Homo sapiens: one gene and its partner. The protein of the gene in region 1 purifies or fractionates together with the protein of each later gene. This does not show direct contact. Each region holds a gene or a part of one and is shown in the gene's direction. Other genes may lie near its edges.

Region 1 (7,086 bases):
GCGCAGCCTGGCCATCATCCGGCAGGCGCGGCAGCGCAGGGAGAAGAGGAAGGAGTACTGCATGTACTACAACCGCTTCGGCAGGTGCAACCGTGGCGAGCGCTGCCCCTACATCCACGATCCCGAGAAGGTGGCCGTGTGCACCAGGTGCCCTCCTGCCCTCGCTGTGGGCCTGGGGGAGGTTCTGTGCAGGGCCCTGCCCTTGGTCCCTGCCGGCCCTTCCTCATACCCGTTTCTCCTGGTGCTGCAGGTTTGTCCGGGGCACCTGCAAGAAAACGGATGGGACCTGCCCCTTCTCCCACCATGTGTCCAAGGAGAAGGTGAGTGCGGCGCTGGTGGCCCTGCTCCCGTGCACCTTTCTCCGGGGCCTCAGCCACCTGGCCTCCGGGCAGATGGTGCCCACAGCTTTCTCTGGGTTTGGGACATGCAGATCCCTGCCCTGGCGTCCTTAGAGTCTGCTGTACCGTCTCTACCCCATTGCAGGCTTTGCAGCTGGGCTTCCTCTTCCCCGGAAAGCAGCGCTGATAGGGTCTCTGCTCACCACGCACAGGGGTCTCTTTTCCCTTCTCCTGGCAGCACCAGGCCTCACCAGATCCCCAGGCCCCCCTTACACATGCCTAGGGGAAGGTGGTCCCACAGGTGCCCCTGTGGACCCAGGGCTGAGGCCTCAGGGCCTCTTCAGACTGGGGTTGGCAGGAGGGGGGAAGCTGTATGTGAGGGGGCTGGGTGGAGAGGCTGCCTGGGCAGAGGGCGGGAGGGAGGGGCTGGAGGGAGAACAGCTGGACTCCTGGCTCATGTGGTTGTCCCCGCGGCCTGAAACCCAACAGACTTGCTTTGAGCCAAGGTGGGTCCCCTGCTGGGAAGCAGCAAGAGAGCCCTGGGGCTGGGGGGGACATGTGTAGCTCCTGTGCCCCGGACTCAGCCACGGTGTGACCACAGCATGCGAGTGGAGTGAGGGCTGCCTTGGGTGAGGGAGGCGGTGTTGGGCAGGGGTGCTGCTGCCGCAACAGCTTTTCCCCTTGAGGAACTTGAAAAGAATCAGCATTTTTCTCCCTAATAGAGCTTCGGAACTCTGTTGTGAGCAATTTGGAAATTCACATCGAGTTTCGGGTTCATTAGCTCCCAGCTCCAAAGCCAGAGCACATTCCAAGCTGTCTAATGTGGACGCCCCGCACCAGTGCCCTGAATTAATGTTATTGTTATTTGTGTGGACGTGGCGGGGTGCAAACAAGGTTAATTGAAATGAGAATGCAGTTTCCTCTTGATAACAGCCCCGCTCTGACAGCCAAGAGGAGCTCCGTTTGCTGTAGAGTTGGCTTTATCATCCCTTTTTATTAGAGCTAATTTGGGCTCTATATCAAAAACCACATTAAGGGAATTGTCTACAGCCCACCACCGCCAGCCCCAAACGGCCCCCAGCCCCTCTCCCCTCTGCGGCTGCAGTTAAAAGACAATTAGAAATAAACTCCCGCTCGTTAAATCACCCTTTGTTTCTTTGCCTTCTCCCTCCCTCCCTCTCAGCCCTGGCCGCTGGCTCTCTGGACCCCTTCTTCCCTCCTTGGCCTTAGACAAGTTCCTTTCCCATCCCCAACCTTGCCCCAGAAAAGTGACTTTTTAAAGCCTCTGGGTCTGCCCAGATCCCCCAGGGCTCCTCAGGCCCCAGCAGCTCTGAGCAGGCTGGGAAGGGGAGGGGGACAAGGGTAGTGGGAGCAGGGAGGGTGGTCTGACCCAGGAGGGAGGAAGGCCCTGGGAGGGGAGCGGGAATAGCCTGGGGCAAGACTGGAGACCCTGGGGTGCTGGCAGGGGCTCTGTGGGGGCTCCATGCTGAGGCTGGACGGTGACATCCTTGTTCTGGACACCCAGGCAGCCCAGGAAGAGCCCGTGGTGGCCCATGAGGGGCAGGGAGATGTCTCCTGGAGATGGCAAGAGACCCCCTGCTTCCCTCCCTGGGTGGCCCTAGCCCAGCCATTGCTCCTTAGGCCTGAGGTTCCCCCAAATGGGAGGAAAGTTACATTTTTTCCCTCTCCCAGCCCAGTGGTGATAACAAGCACTGACTGTGGCCAGCGGCCCTGTGCTGGGGAGGAAGACGCTGCTGGACCCTTCCTGCTGACAGCCTTGGCCTCCACGGTGCTGGCCTGCAGCCAGTGCCACACCAGCCCTGCTTCCAGGTGGCTCCTGCCCACCTAGAGCCCAGGGACACTGCCTGTGGCCCACGGGTCAGGTGCCTGGAGAGGGAGAGCCCTCTGTTGGCTGCTGGCCCGTGGCTCGTCCTCCCACCTAGACACTGGTCCCCATGGCCTGAGAGGCTCCAAGGGCAGCCCTGGCCACAGGCTAGTGGTTGGGAGCCCTGGCTGCCATCTTGCCCTGGACGGTGGGCAGGCTCAGAACAGGTGAGGGACTCAGAGGAGGGCGCCCCTGAGGCTGAGCCACAGGGCTACAGGGCTGCTCCATGCCTCCTCTGGACAGAGCACGGCAGGGGTGTGGCTCACCTGGGGAGGCTGGGGCCCACTTCTGAGCAGCAGCTTCCCTGCCCCGCAGGTCGTGGTGGCTGCCCTTCCTGCCTGCTGGTGCCGCGTGTCCATTTCTCTCTCGGGCGGGGCCGTAGGAGGGTCCCCAGCCACCGTCTCTGGGCCCTGGAGGGTGGCTGCCTGCTGGCCCTCACTGCCGGCCCTCCCTGCAGATGCCGGTGTGCTCCTACTTCCTGAAGGGCATCTGCAGCAACAGCAACTGTCCCTATAGCCACGTGTACGTGTCCCGCAAGGCCGAGGTCTGCAGCGACTTCCTCAAAGGCTACTGCCCCCTGGGTGCAAAGGTGAGTGGTCTGTGGGGGCCCGAGTGGGCGGGGTTCCTGTGGCTTGTTGGTCCTCTGCTCACTCCTGGGTACCTGCCGTGGTGGCTGGATGACCCATCTGCAGCCCTGAGGTGGTCAGTGCCATCACGTCCACCTCACAGGTGACTCAGAGAGGTCCAGCAACTTTCCCGGGGTTGCACAGCACCAACACAGGGCGGGGTTTGAACCATGGGAAGGTGAGGCGCAGAGGACCTAGACTTCCAGGTGCAGCACTGGTAGCCCCAGGAGCTGGCCCCCCATGGTAGGGGTGTGGTGACTGGGCCGGAGCAGCTCCTGGGATGTTGCTGGGGGCGGCAGTGCAGTGAAGGGGATATTGGAGGCCAGGGAGCCCGCAGGGCTGCAGGATGTGGGGCCAGCAGCCTCCCCAGGAAGGCAGGGGGTGGACGGGACACTCCCACCCAGCCTGGGGCAGAGGGGTGGGCCAGGCAGAGCCAAGGGGGCCGCCTGAGCCGTGGCTGGCAAGGGTGGAGTGAGCTGGCGCTGGAGCTCATTGCGGGGCACCACTGCTGGGTGGAGAATTGGGGACCTGGGCTGTAGCTGATGGCTGCGGCTCCCCTCTTCCTAGGGGCATGACTGACTCCTGTGTTGCAGAGGCACTCACAGGCTCACCTGTCTGGGAAGTTCCCGGCAGTGCAGCCAGCTCCTCCCCTCTGCCTCACCTGCCCTCCTGGGCTTCAGCAGGACTCCCCGCCACAAGCAGCGTGGCCTCAGCATCTCCAGTGGGCCTGGTCCCGGGTACAAGCCCCCTCTACCCCAGCCTCTCACGCCTGTTTCTCTCCCCGCCCTGGGGGCTCCTGCACCTGGCCTAAGGCTTGTGGCTGAGGCTGGGGGCCTCCTGGCTCAGGCTGGGGAGGGGCCAGAGCTGGGGGACCTGGAGATGCTCCTTGTCCCTGGCATCTTGGGAGGGAGCCCCGGGGCCTGCAGCACGGCTCACTGCCACCTGGACCTCACACTTGTGTTGGCGCTGCCTCAGGGTCTGCAGCCCCCGTGAAGCCGAGAACACCAGGCACCCCAGGAACCCTTTCTCAGCCCACCCGCAAGGACACCGGGCCCGAAGCTCTGGCGGCTCTCCTGCCCCTCCCTTGCTGGGTTCACCTGTGGGGTCCTGTAGAAGCTGGGCCACGCACTCCTTCCTGTGCACAGCGTTCTGTGGTGGGCCGGGCCCTTCCCAAGCATCCTCTCCCTCATCCTCAGTCCTCACACCCACTTCCCAGGAGGAGTCAGCCTGCAGCCCCTGCTGCCGGGCCAAGGGTTGGCCAGGCCGGGCTCCCCAACCTGAAACCTGGCAGGCAATCCCCTCCGGGGAGGTAGGGCCTGGCTGGGGCAGCCCCAGACCCTGTGGGGGCAGTGGCAGGATCCCCATGGAGGCCATGGCTGATTATTGTAAAATGTTTCGATTTAAATGAAAATATCAAAGTGATATTTAGGTCCTGCTTCTATTAGTGGAAGTGCTTACTGCTGCCTTTCCGTGTGTCCGCGCCGCGGCGCCCGCATGATGGATAGCAGCTTGTAATTATATATGGGAAAGCGCTGAGCCGGCCAGATCCAGCGGGGACAGGCGGCAGCCCGGGCCTGCGAGGGTTAATTTTATTCTCTAAATAATGTGAAAAGTGCTGAATCGTCACCTTGCGCCTGAAGTAGAAGTCCTCAAATGGGCCCCAGAGAGTTTATAATATTCCACTGAATCAAGTGAAATTGTTAACCTTGCTTCATAAAGCGATGGCTTGTTAAAGAGCCACATTCCCTTTCCTTGTGAATAATTTAGGCTGGGAGTAAATCTCCGCTCCTTCCCCTTTTGGGGGGCCACGGCTGTGGCTCAGGGGTCAACCTCTGCCAGATGCCGCCTGCCCTCCTAGATATCAGGACGGGGATGACTTCAGACTGCCTGTTTGTACACACCTGCGGGGTCTGCCACGTCCTGCCCAGACCCGGAGACGCAGAGTCCTCCCCAGTAGGCGTCCCTGTCCTGGTGCAGCGCTGTTTTCCTCCCTTGCCTCAGGCGCTCGCTCCATCCTTGTCAAAGGGATCTCCCCGGCTGATACGTCTTGCTGGGGGGAGACTCTGAGACTAGAAAACTCCACCTTCTCCCCTTAGTCTTAATAGCCAGCTGTGTCTGTCTGCTGTCAAATTCTGATCCGCGGCCGGCGTCCTTGAACGGAAGAGTTTTCCCTCCTCCGTGCTCACCGCTCGCCTGTTTGTCCACGGGTGTGTCCGGCTGTGTCCATTGCCGTCCCCTTTTAATATGCTGCCCTGCCAGGGCTCCTGCCCTTATGATGTGCCTGACAGTTTCTGCACCCTTGCTTGCTTTCTGGCACCCAGATGCTCCCAGCACCCGGCGGCTCTGGGACAGCCGCTCCTGGCTCCTTATGGGTGTGTTTAAGACTCAGGGTCTGGGCCGGGCGCGGTGGCTCACACCTGTAATCCCAACACTTTGGGAGGCCGAGGCAGGTGGATCACCTGAGGTCAGGAGTTCAAAACCAGCTTGGCCAACATGGTGAAACCCCATCTCTACTAAAAATACGAAAAGTTAGCCGGTTGTGGCGGCAAATGCCTGTAATCCCAGCTACTCGGGAGGCTGAGGCAGGAGAATTGCTGGAACCCGGGAGGTGGAGGTTGTGGTGAGCTGAGATTGCGCCACTGCACTCCAGCCTACGTGACAAGAGTGAGACTCTGTCTCAAAAAAAAAAAAAGAGACTCAGGGTCTGGGCGCTGCTCCTGGTGGCTCTAGGTGGGACAGCTGCTCCTGCAGGGCGCCCTGGTTCCTTCTGGGTGTGTTTAGGACTCAGGGTCTGGGCGCTGCGTGTGCTTGTTGCAGCTAGGGTGTTGGCTGCTGCCAGCGCCCCCAGTGCACAGGGCTGGGGAGCATCGTGTGCACGTGTGCAGGGGTGACAGTGACTCCATCCCCACCTCTGCATTGAGAGCTCCTGCACACCTTGGCCCTCCTGCATCTGCAGTGCCTGCTCCGTGAGCCTCCGCGCTGCCGTTTTCCCCACACCCTGTGTGTGGTTGGTGCCTGTCTGCAGGGAGCTGTCGGGAGAGGGAAGGCCCTGGCTGAGCCTTGGGTTTCAGCTCCCCAAGTGCGAGCTGAGACCTGAGTCACCTGGGATTCCCCTCACGCACACCCTGCCTTCATCCTCCAGGCTTGCAAGGGCTCCTGTGTCCTCTGGACAGCGCCTGTCTTGGTTTTGTTCACATACAGCGCTTCTCTGTTGGTGCCTTGCTTTCGCCAGTGCTGCCCTTTGTTAGGCCGAATCCTTCGTCCTTTATGAGGCAAGGTCCTGACATCCTTTGCCCTGTGATTTGTGCTCGGGGTCTTGTTTAGGACCAGTCTCCACCCATGGTCACAGAGTGCCTCCTGCATTGCCTGATGCTGGCTCAAGAGGCAGCTGTGGGTGTCGCTTGTCCCTGCACGGTTACTTCCTCCTCTGGCCTCAGTCTCCTTTTATATACAGTCGGGATAACGGCACTGCCTATCTCAGAGGGTCGTGGCGACTCTTCAGGGGGCCACAGTGGGCCTGGCAGTGTCCTGGGTGGCCCTGGCACAGGGAGGCCTCCCTACAAGTCGGCTGCCGTTTGCTGTTCTTCATTTGCGTGTTGTGTGAGGTGGGGCCTCACTTAGTTTTTCTTCATGTCGTGGGTGCTTTCCCTCAACGGTGATCTAACCCTTTGATCTGTGGTGTCAGCTTTAAAAAAAAAAAAAAAGCAGCTTAACTGAAGTACAGTTTCCCTCCCACACAATTCCTCTGCTCTAGGTGTATGGTTCTGTGGGTTTGAGTAAACTTAGAGTGGTACAGCTGCACCACAGCGCAGCTTTCAGTTGTTTTCATCGCCCCCCAGAATTCCCTCACTCTTTTCATCATCAGTCCCGGCCCCTAACACTCATCCACTTCTGTCTCGGTAAGTTTCTTCTGTGGGCCTTTCGTGTTGCTGGAATCATACAGTACATGGTTGTTTGGCATCTTTGATTTTGCATCATGTTTGGAGGTCTGTCCTGCAGCACCTCAGCGCTGCACCCGTTTTTATTACAGAGTCAAGCCGCTGCAGAGGCTCTCCACACTTTCTTTGTCCGTTCGGGTGGTTGCCAGTTGGGGGCTGTCGTGAATAATACTGCCTCGAATGTCCGCGCTCCAGCCTTTGTGTGGCCGATGCTTTTGCTTCTCTTGGGTAGACACCTAGGAGTGGAATTGCAGGGCCATAGGGTCACTGCAGGGCTACAGGGTCACTCTAGGTTAACA
Region 2 (7,409 bases), on another chromosome or scaffold:
AAAAAAAAAAAAAATTAGCCGGGCATGGTGGCGAGCGCCTGTAGCCCCAGCCACTCCAGAGACTGAGGCAGGAGAATGGCGTGAACCCGGAAGGCGGAGCTTGCAGTGAGCTGAGATCGCGCCACTGCACTCCAGCCTGGGTGACAGAGCGAGACTCTGTCTCAAAAAAAAAAAAAAAAAAAAAAAGAAATGGCAGAAATGTCTATGAGGCCGGAAGAGAGAAGGGGGAAGCAGGAGGAGGTAAGAAGTGTCAGGGCAAAGTGTGAAGGGTCCTGTGGGCCCGGAGGAGGACTTGGGTTTTACTCTGAGTCAGGCAGGAGCCATGGAGGGTTCTGGGCTGGAGATGGCCACATTTACTTCTGGACTCAGACACCAAGCAGGGGCTCACAAGGATCCGGGGGTAGGGTCCTCTCTTTGTCCCCGATCACTGACATGCCCCACCCCCCACAACAGAGATTGAGCAACCCCCCAGAACTGGGACGTGTGTATAACACCCGCTGCCTTTTACACTCTCAGCCTGGGGTGGCGGGGTGGCCTGGGGGCCCCCAAGCCAAGCTGTGGTCGGAGTTTCCCCACAGTGAGAATCAACCTCCACCTACCTTCCCACCCTCTCACCTCTGATGCCCAAGACCCTGAATCCAGCGAAGCTCACAGAACACACAAGAAGTCCAAGGAAGAGCCGAGGGTCCAGTGGGGCCTCTGAGCTAGAGACGGGGAGAGGGCAGTGGGACAGAAGGAGAGAGGAGGCTTGGTAACCACTCCCCAGCCCCCAGAGCCTGGGAGTGGAGCTGGGATGCTGGGCCCAGGAGCCCAAACTATAAATATTTAGCATTTCCCGAATGAGAAATGAGACAGAATTGCCAGACCCCCCTGCCCAGGCCACCAGAGCCTGATAACACAGGTCAGTGTCCTGGACATCCCTCCCTTTCCCCCACACCCTCCACTGCAGAGCCCAGAGCGTGGGAGGCTGCAGGCCCTGGGGCAGCCAGGCGTGATCCCAGCCCCAGACACGCACACACCACACATAGAAAGAGGAACATCACTGGGGACTTACCGTGTGTAGGGCTTGGCTCTAAACTCTCCACACCTTTTACGTATTTGATCCTTACAACCTGAGCTGGATTCTGTATGTACCCTCATTTTACAGCAGGGAAAACTGAGGCTCAGAGAGGGTAAGCAACTTGCCTGCGGTCACACAGCCAAAAAGAGACCAGGATGGGAGCCAGCCAAGGTAGCTTGACTCAGAAACTCACACATGTACACCACAGCTGTCACACACATATGGGCACATAACAGAGTGGACACAAACACACACACACACATTTGCACGCACGCACACATTAACACCCAGCGAAAGTCTGGGTGCAGTGGCTCATGCCTGAAAGCCAGCACTTTGGGAGGCCGGGGCAGGTGGATTACCTGAGGTCAGGAGTTCGAAACCATCCTTGCCAACATGCTAAAACCCCGTCTCTACTAACAATACAAAAATTAGCTGGGCATGGTGGCATGCGCCAGTAATCCCAGCTACGCGGGAGGCTGAGGCAGGAGAATTGCTTGAAGCCAGGAGGTGGAGGTTGCAGTAAGCCGAGATCGAGCAACCGCATGCACTCCAGCCTGGGCGACAAGACTGAAATTCCATCTCAAAAATAAATAAATAAATAAATAAATAAATAATAAATAAATAATAATAAAGTGAGGAATTAATTAATTAAAATAAAAAATAAATATAAAAGACACAGCTGTAAATTTTTAAATTGTGATAGAAACAATATATTCTTAAAGTGAAAACCCTACCTCAGTTACATGTGATTTATGTTTTTTGGATTAATCTGGATTTTATAATTAGAAATAAAAATGTAAGGCTGGGCGCGGTGGCTCACGCCTGTAATCCCAGCACTTTGGGAGGCCAAGGTGGGCAGATCACGAGGTCAGCAATTCGAGACCAGCCTGGCCAAGATGGTGAAACCCCGTCTCTACTAAAAATACAAAAATTTGCCGGGTGTGGTGGCCCATGCCTGTAATCCCAGCTACTCAGGAGGCTGAGGCAGGAGAATCGCTTGAACCCGGGGGGCGGAGGTTGCAGTGAGCCACTGCACTCCAGCCTGGGCGACAGAGTAAGACTCTGTCTCAAAAAAAAAAAAAAAAAAAAGAAAAGAAATAAAAATGTAAGATTTTGAGTCCACATAATTATTTGTTGAAAATAATACAAGTCAGTATAATAGAGAAGCATTCATATATTCAACACTGTGAGACAAAACACCAGAGACCTTGGATTTGATAATTGATCTGATATCCTGGACAGTATTCATATGTACAGTGATAGCTATCTTTCTTTGGTGTTTTTTTTGTTTTGTTTGTGTGTGTGGTGTGTGTGTGTGTGTGTGTGTGTGTGTGTAGTTTTATGGTTCTGAGTTGGTGGCCAGTAAGTTCCATGTAGTGTTGGCACTTATTTAATTAACTATTCATGATTTTGTTAATAGCTTGTTATAGAATTCAGGCATATATTTTTCAGCATAAGAAGCCAAGCACACCAGCTTGTCATTGGAGAGAATATATTAAGTGAGAAAAACATTCAGGAATCAGAGCTTTAACATGTTAAAGTTAGTGCTAAACATTGTCATATTGGATCTGAACCTATCCTAATATATAACCATAAAGCTTGACTTCTGCATTGGAACTATGCTTTCATAAATAAAGGATATCTCATTGATTAAAAAAAATTTTTAAAAAGACACAGCTGGAAACATAACAGTTTCAGGCAACAACTGTATGTTCCAAATATGGTCACACACACATCACAACTTAAAGGGAAATGGGGTGGGCTGAGTGGGTCTTTATCTGTGTGTCAGGCTTGTCCACATCCTGGTTCTTGTGATCACACAGTAGTGCACAGATACAAAACAGGTACACACAGTTGACACCCGGAAACCTATCCACCGCACCACAGAGGTCACCGTCTGTCTCCCACACACTCGGTCACATTTTCACACAAGTCAAATCACACGAGGACGGAACTGGGGGAAGTAACCATGCAGTCATTTCCCAGGGGTACAAAGAAACTCACATAGAGCCCCACAGAGCCCAGGCCCAGGGTCTGAGACCTGTCCAAAGGCCCCACCGACGACCAGCCACACGCCGGGAGAGTCACCTCCTTCCCCTGGTCTGCACCATCCTGAGCTCCCGAGTAACTCGAGTGGACTCCAGGGTTGAAAAAGGAAATGGTCGTCCCAGATCTGAGAGAGGCTGCCAGGCTGGGCTCTGGGCCTGGGTTGGGGCCCCCACACTGGGCCCCTCGGCCCCCCACCCTCAGCCCCCTCTGGCTTCCCCATTGGCAGTAGAGAGGGAGGGAACTTCATAAGTCACAGAGAGGGGCTGAAGAATACAGAGAGTCAGACAGATGGAGATGGGAGAGGCATAGGGAGATGGGAGAGACATAGGGAGATGGCAGAGAAAGGGAGAGACGGGGAGATGGGGAGAGACAGAGAGAGATGGGAAGATGGGGAGAGACCACAGGGAGGCAGATGAGAAGAAAGAAACAGGGATGGGGCCAGACACAGAGAAAGGAAACTTCTTTAGTTTCCATCTTCAGTTATAAATGATGAAAGAGACAACTGATGACAGAGACAAAGTTACAAGAGGGAGAAAGAGACAGGGGGAAGACGAGGGGGAGGGGAGACACATCTGGGGGAGAGGAGGAAGAATTGGGGTGCCAGAGAGAGCAAGGAGGGAGAGGAGGCCGATGGGGGAGGAGAGAGTAATGTTCAGCCCAGTGAGGGGGTGTCCCTTTCCCCCACTGCAAGGTTTTGGGGAAGAAGCCAGAGGCCTGAGGCCAAGACTGAGGCTTTGAGCGGAAAGAAGGAGGGGGCGAGTTATTCACGAAACGCCCGCCTTGCCCTGAGTTTCCAGAAGGTGATGTGGAGTTTCCATCCCTCAGCCTGTCTGCAGACAGGGGTACCCGGGGAGGACAGCTGGCCCAGAGGAGTTGCGAGACTAAAGTGAATGATTGCCACAGTCATTCCCTCCGGTGGCTTCTCCCCAAGTACTTGGCGCCAGAGCGCCCAACATTGTGCATACATGGTCGCTCCTAATTCGTGGGCCCGGGGGACATTATCAGCCTTACTTTGGGATATTTTAGGAGCCTCGGAATGCAGAAAGTGGTTTTAGCCCAGCTGGAGGAAATGGGCCGAAGCGGGATTCGAACCGGCGGATTCGTTTCTCTGCAGCCCGGAGCCGCGTAGCCCCGCCCCGGTCTCCCTAGAAACAGGCACCCGTGTCTCCATAGCAACCGCTCCATCTGATTGCCCCTCCCCGCTCCCAGAGGCCACCTAGTGCGCAGGCCCGCCTGATGTCGTCCCACGCCGTGCCGGCTCTCAGGCGCCGGAAGTGAGCTGCGCAGCGCCGGAAGCGGCGGACGCAGGAGGCCTCGTGGAGGACACAGCAGCATGGGACAGTCAGGGAGGGTAAGGCCCGGCAGCTTGGGAGGCAGGTGGCGCAGGTGGGGTCCCGGCCGAGGTCGCGGCGCTGACCCTTTGTCTCTCGTCGCCGCAGTCCCGGCACCAGAAGCGCGCCCGCGCCCAGGCGCAGCTCCGCAACCTCGAGGCCTATGCCGCGAACCCGCACTCGTTCGTGTTCACGCGAGGCTGCACGGGTCGCAACATCCGGCAGCTCAGCCTGGACGTGCGGCGGGTCATGGAGCCGCTCACTGCCAGCCGTCTGCAGGTTTGTACCCCACCCCCAGCCCGCCTCCACCCACCCTCGGCCTAGTCTTCGTAGCTGCAGTAATGGCTCCCGCTGTAAAACTGTGGGAGGACTTAAGTCTCCCCAGCTGGAAAAAAAGACCCTCATGGGGAGCATCATTTCTGCCTTTCAGGGCTTTTGCTGGGCTGGAGTGAGGGCGCGCAGCTTGGGAGATAGATAGTCGCCTAAGCCTGACAGTTAAGACTGGAATCTGGAGCCGGGCGTGGTGGCTCATGCCTGTATTCCCAGCATTTGGGGATGCTGATGCGGGAGGATCACTTGAGCCCAGGAATTCGAGACCAGCCTGAGCAGCATGGTGAAACCCCGTCTTTACAAAAAATAGAAAAATTAGTCGGATATGGTGTTGCGTGCCTGTAGTCCCGGCTACTCGGGAGGCTGAGGTGGGAGGATTCCTTGAGCCCAGGAAATTAAGGCTGTAGTGAATCGGGATCGTGCCACTTCACTCCAGTCTGGGCGACCGGAGGAGACCGTGTTAGAAAAAAAAAGACTAGAATCTGGAGGCAGCAAAGCAGGGTTGGAAACTGACTTCTCCCCAGTATCTGATGCAAGTTACTTAACCTCTCTGGGCCTGAGTTCGCTCATTTGTCAATGGGAAGATGCGCTGTGAGCAAGAGACAGAGTTAGAACTCAAATCTGCGTCCGACTGACTCTAAAGGCTAAGATCCTTTTGCTCCTCTGGGCTTGTTGAAAGGGTCAGATGCAAGACAGACCATAACAGGATCTGCACCGTCAGCTTATAGTTGTCACAACAAGGGATAAGCTATGTTTTCTTTTTTTCTTTTTGTCATTTCCAGGTTCGTAAGAAGAACTCGCTGAAGGACTGCGTGGCAGTGGCTGGGCCCCTCGGGGTCACACACTTTCTGATCCTGAGCAAAACAGAGACCAATGTCTACTTTGTGAGTAGACGCCCTCACCCTTCATCTCCCCCAGACCCCCCCTTCCCCTATCTCTCATGATGAACACATATGCCTCTGAGCTGCTGTGATTTCTGGCTTCAAAGTAAACGCTCTGAAGAAGAGATGGGGCAAAGGTGCCTACTCCGGGCACCTCTGCTAGACCCCTCCAGAGTCACTGATCTTTTCTTCTCCTGCAGAAGCTGATGCGCCTCCCAGGAGGCCCCACCTTGACCTTCCAGGTCAAGAAGGTGAGAGGGGTGGAGGTGGTACAAAGCCATGTGGGGTGGGAGCTGGACTTGGGGTTGTCCGCAGCCATGTGTGGTTGGTGGTCACCCCCTCCTCTCTCCTGTCCTACAGTACTCGCTGGTGCGTGATGTGGTCTCCTCACTGCGCCGGCACCGCATGCACGAGCAGCAGTTTGCCCACCCACCCCTCCTGGTACTCAACAGCTTTGGCCCCCATGGTATGCATGTGAAGCTCATGGCCACCATGTTCCAGAACCTGTTCCCCTCCATCAACGTGCACAAGGTGGGTCTGGCCTGGCGAGGTGGCAGGTATGGGGGGGTGCAGCGGATAGAGGTGCCACAGGCCCTCAGATGGATTGCTCACTCCTCCCAGCGCTGAGACTGGGAGCTCCTGGGTCTGCTGAGTCCTGAGGTCAAATCCCACTCCTGTGTCTGATGATGCTGGGCAAAAGTGTCCAGAGATTCCCCCAGCGGTCCACACCCCGTGAGCTGCACCTTTTCCAGCCGGTGGAAAGAAATACTGATGGAGCTCTGTTTCCCACGTGTGTTGAGTGCTGGGCTGAGCAGGATCGTAGCATCTCTTCTTAGGGCCCTGTTTTACAGAGGGAAGCTGCGGGCCCAGTGCTATGGCTTCGGCCTGTAATCCCAGTACTTTGGGAGGGCGAGGTGGGAGGATCGCTTGAAGCCAAGACTTTGAGATCAGCCTGTGCAACATAGCGAGACCCCATGTCTACAAAAAGTAGATTTTTAAAAAGCCCGGTGTGGCGGTGCATGCCTGTAGTACCAGCTACTGGGGAGGCTGAGGTGGGAGGATCACCTGAGCCCAGGAGGTCAAGGCTGCAGTGAGTTGTGTTCACGCCACTCTACTCCATCCTGGGTGACAAAGCGAGACACTGTCTCAAAAAAAAAAAAAAAAGCAAATCTGAGGCTGGCAGAGATGCTAAGTTTAGATTCCAGGGGGCAGGACTGGATTTTTAATTTCATCTGGCTCCTGAGTCCTAGCTCCTAATCCTTGTCACTAGTGACTCTCAGATGGGACTTATAAATTATATATAAGATATCAGTCATCAGGGAGGCTAATACGGCTCTGGGACCAGAATTTCTTGTTTACCTTTTTTTTTTTTTTTTGAGACGGAGTCTTGCTCTGTCTCCCAGGCTGGAGTGCGGTGGCACAATCTCATCTCATTGCAAGCTCCGCCTCCCAGGTTCACGCCATTCTCCTGCCTCAGCCTCCCGAGTAGCTGGGACTACAGGTGCCCGCCACCACACCCCGGCTAATTTTTTGTATTTTTAGTAGAGACAGGATTTCACCGTGTTAGCCAGGGTGGTCTTGATCTGACCTCGTGAGCTGCCCGCCTCGGCCTCCCAAAGTGCTGGGATTACAGGCGTGAGCCACCGTGCCCGGCCTTCTTTACTTTTTTTTTAAGAGACGGGGTCTCCGTACGTTGGTCTTGAACTCCTGGGCACAAGCAATCCTGCAGCCTCCGCTTCCCGAGTAGCTGAGACTACA

Evidence for each region. Proteins that work in one complex are often made in the same cells at the same time.
Region 2: the proteins of ZC3H3 (region 1) and PPAN-P2RY11 purify together in Homo sapiens (affinity purification with mass spectrometry, with the first as the bait; 3 studies listed by BioGRID). This does not show direct contact.

The regions. Positions count from the first base shown.
Region 1 is NC_000008.11:143,461,443-143,468,528, reverse strand, and holds part of ZC3H3 (zinc finger CCCH domain-containing protein 3), read left to right. Parts: coding exon 1-147; intron 148-250; coding exon 251-320; intron 321-2,680; coding exon 2,681-2,812; intron 2,813-7,086. UniProt on the Homo sapiens protein: Required for the export of polyadenylated mRNAs from the nucleus. Enhances ACVR1B-induced SMAD-dependent transcription. Binds to single-stranded DNA but not to double-stranded DNA in vitro. Involved in RNA cleavage.
Region 2 is NC_000019.10:10,101,953-10,109,361, forward strand, and holds the start of PPAN-P2RY11 (PPAN-P2RY11 protein), read left to right. Parts: upstream 1-4,409; 5' UTR 4,410-4,442; coding exon 4,443-4,460; exon of another isoform or gene 4,461-4,548; coding exon 4,549-4,719; intron 4,720-5,552; coding exon 5,553-5,654; intron 5,655-5,698; exon of another isoform or gene 5,699-5,783; intron 5,784-5,851; coding exon 5,852-5,902; intron 5,903-6,011; coding exon 6,012-6,182; intron 6,183-7,409. Other genes in the region: ANGPTL6 (angiopoietin-related protein 6), read right to left, coding at 600-704, 1,055-1,140; PPAN (suppressor of SWI4 1 homolog), read left to right, coding at 4,443-4,460, 4,549-4,719, 5,553-5,654, 5,852-5,902, 6,012-6,182. UniProt on the Homo sapiens protein: May have a role in cell growth.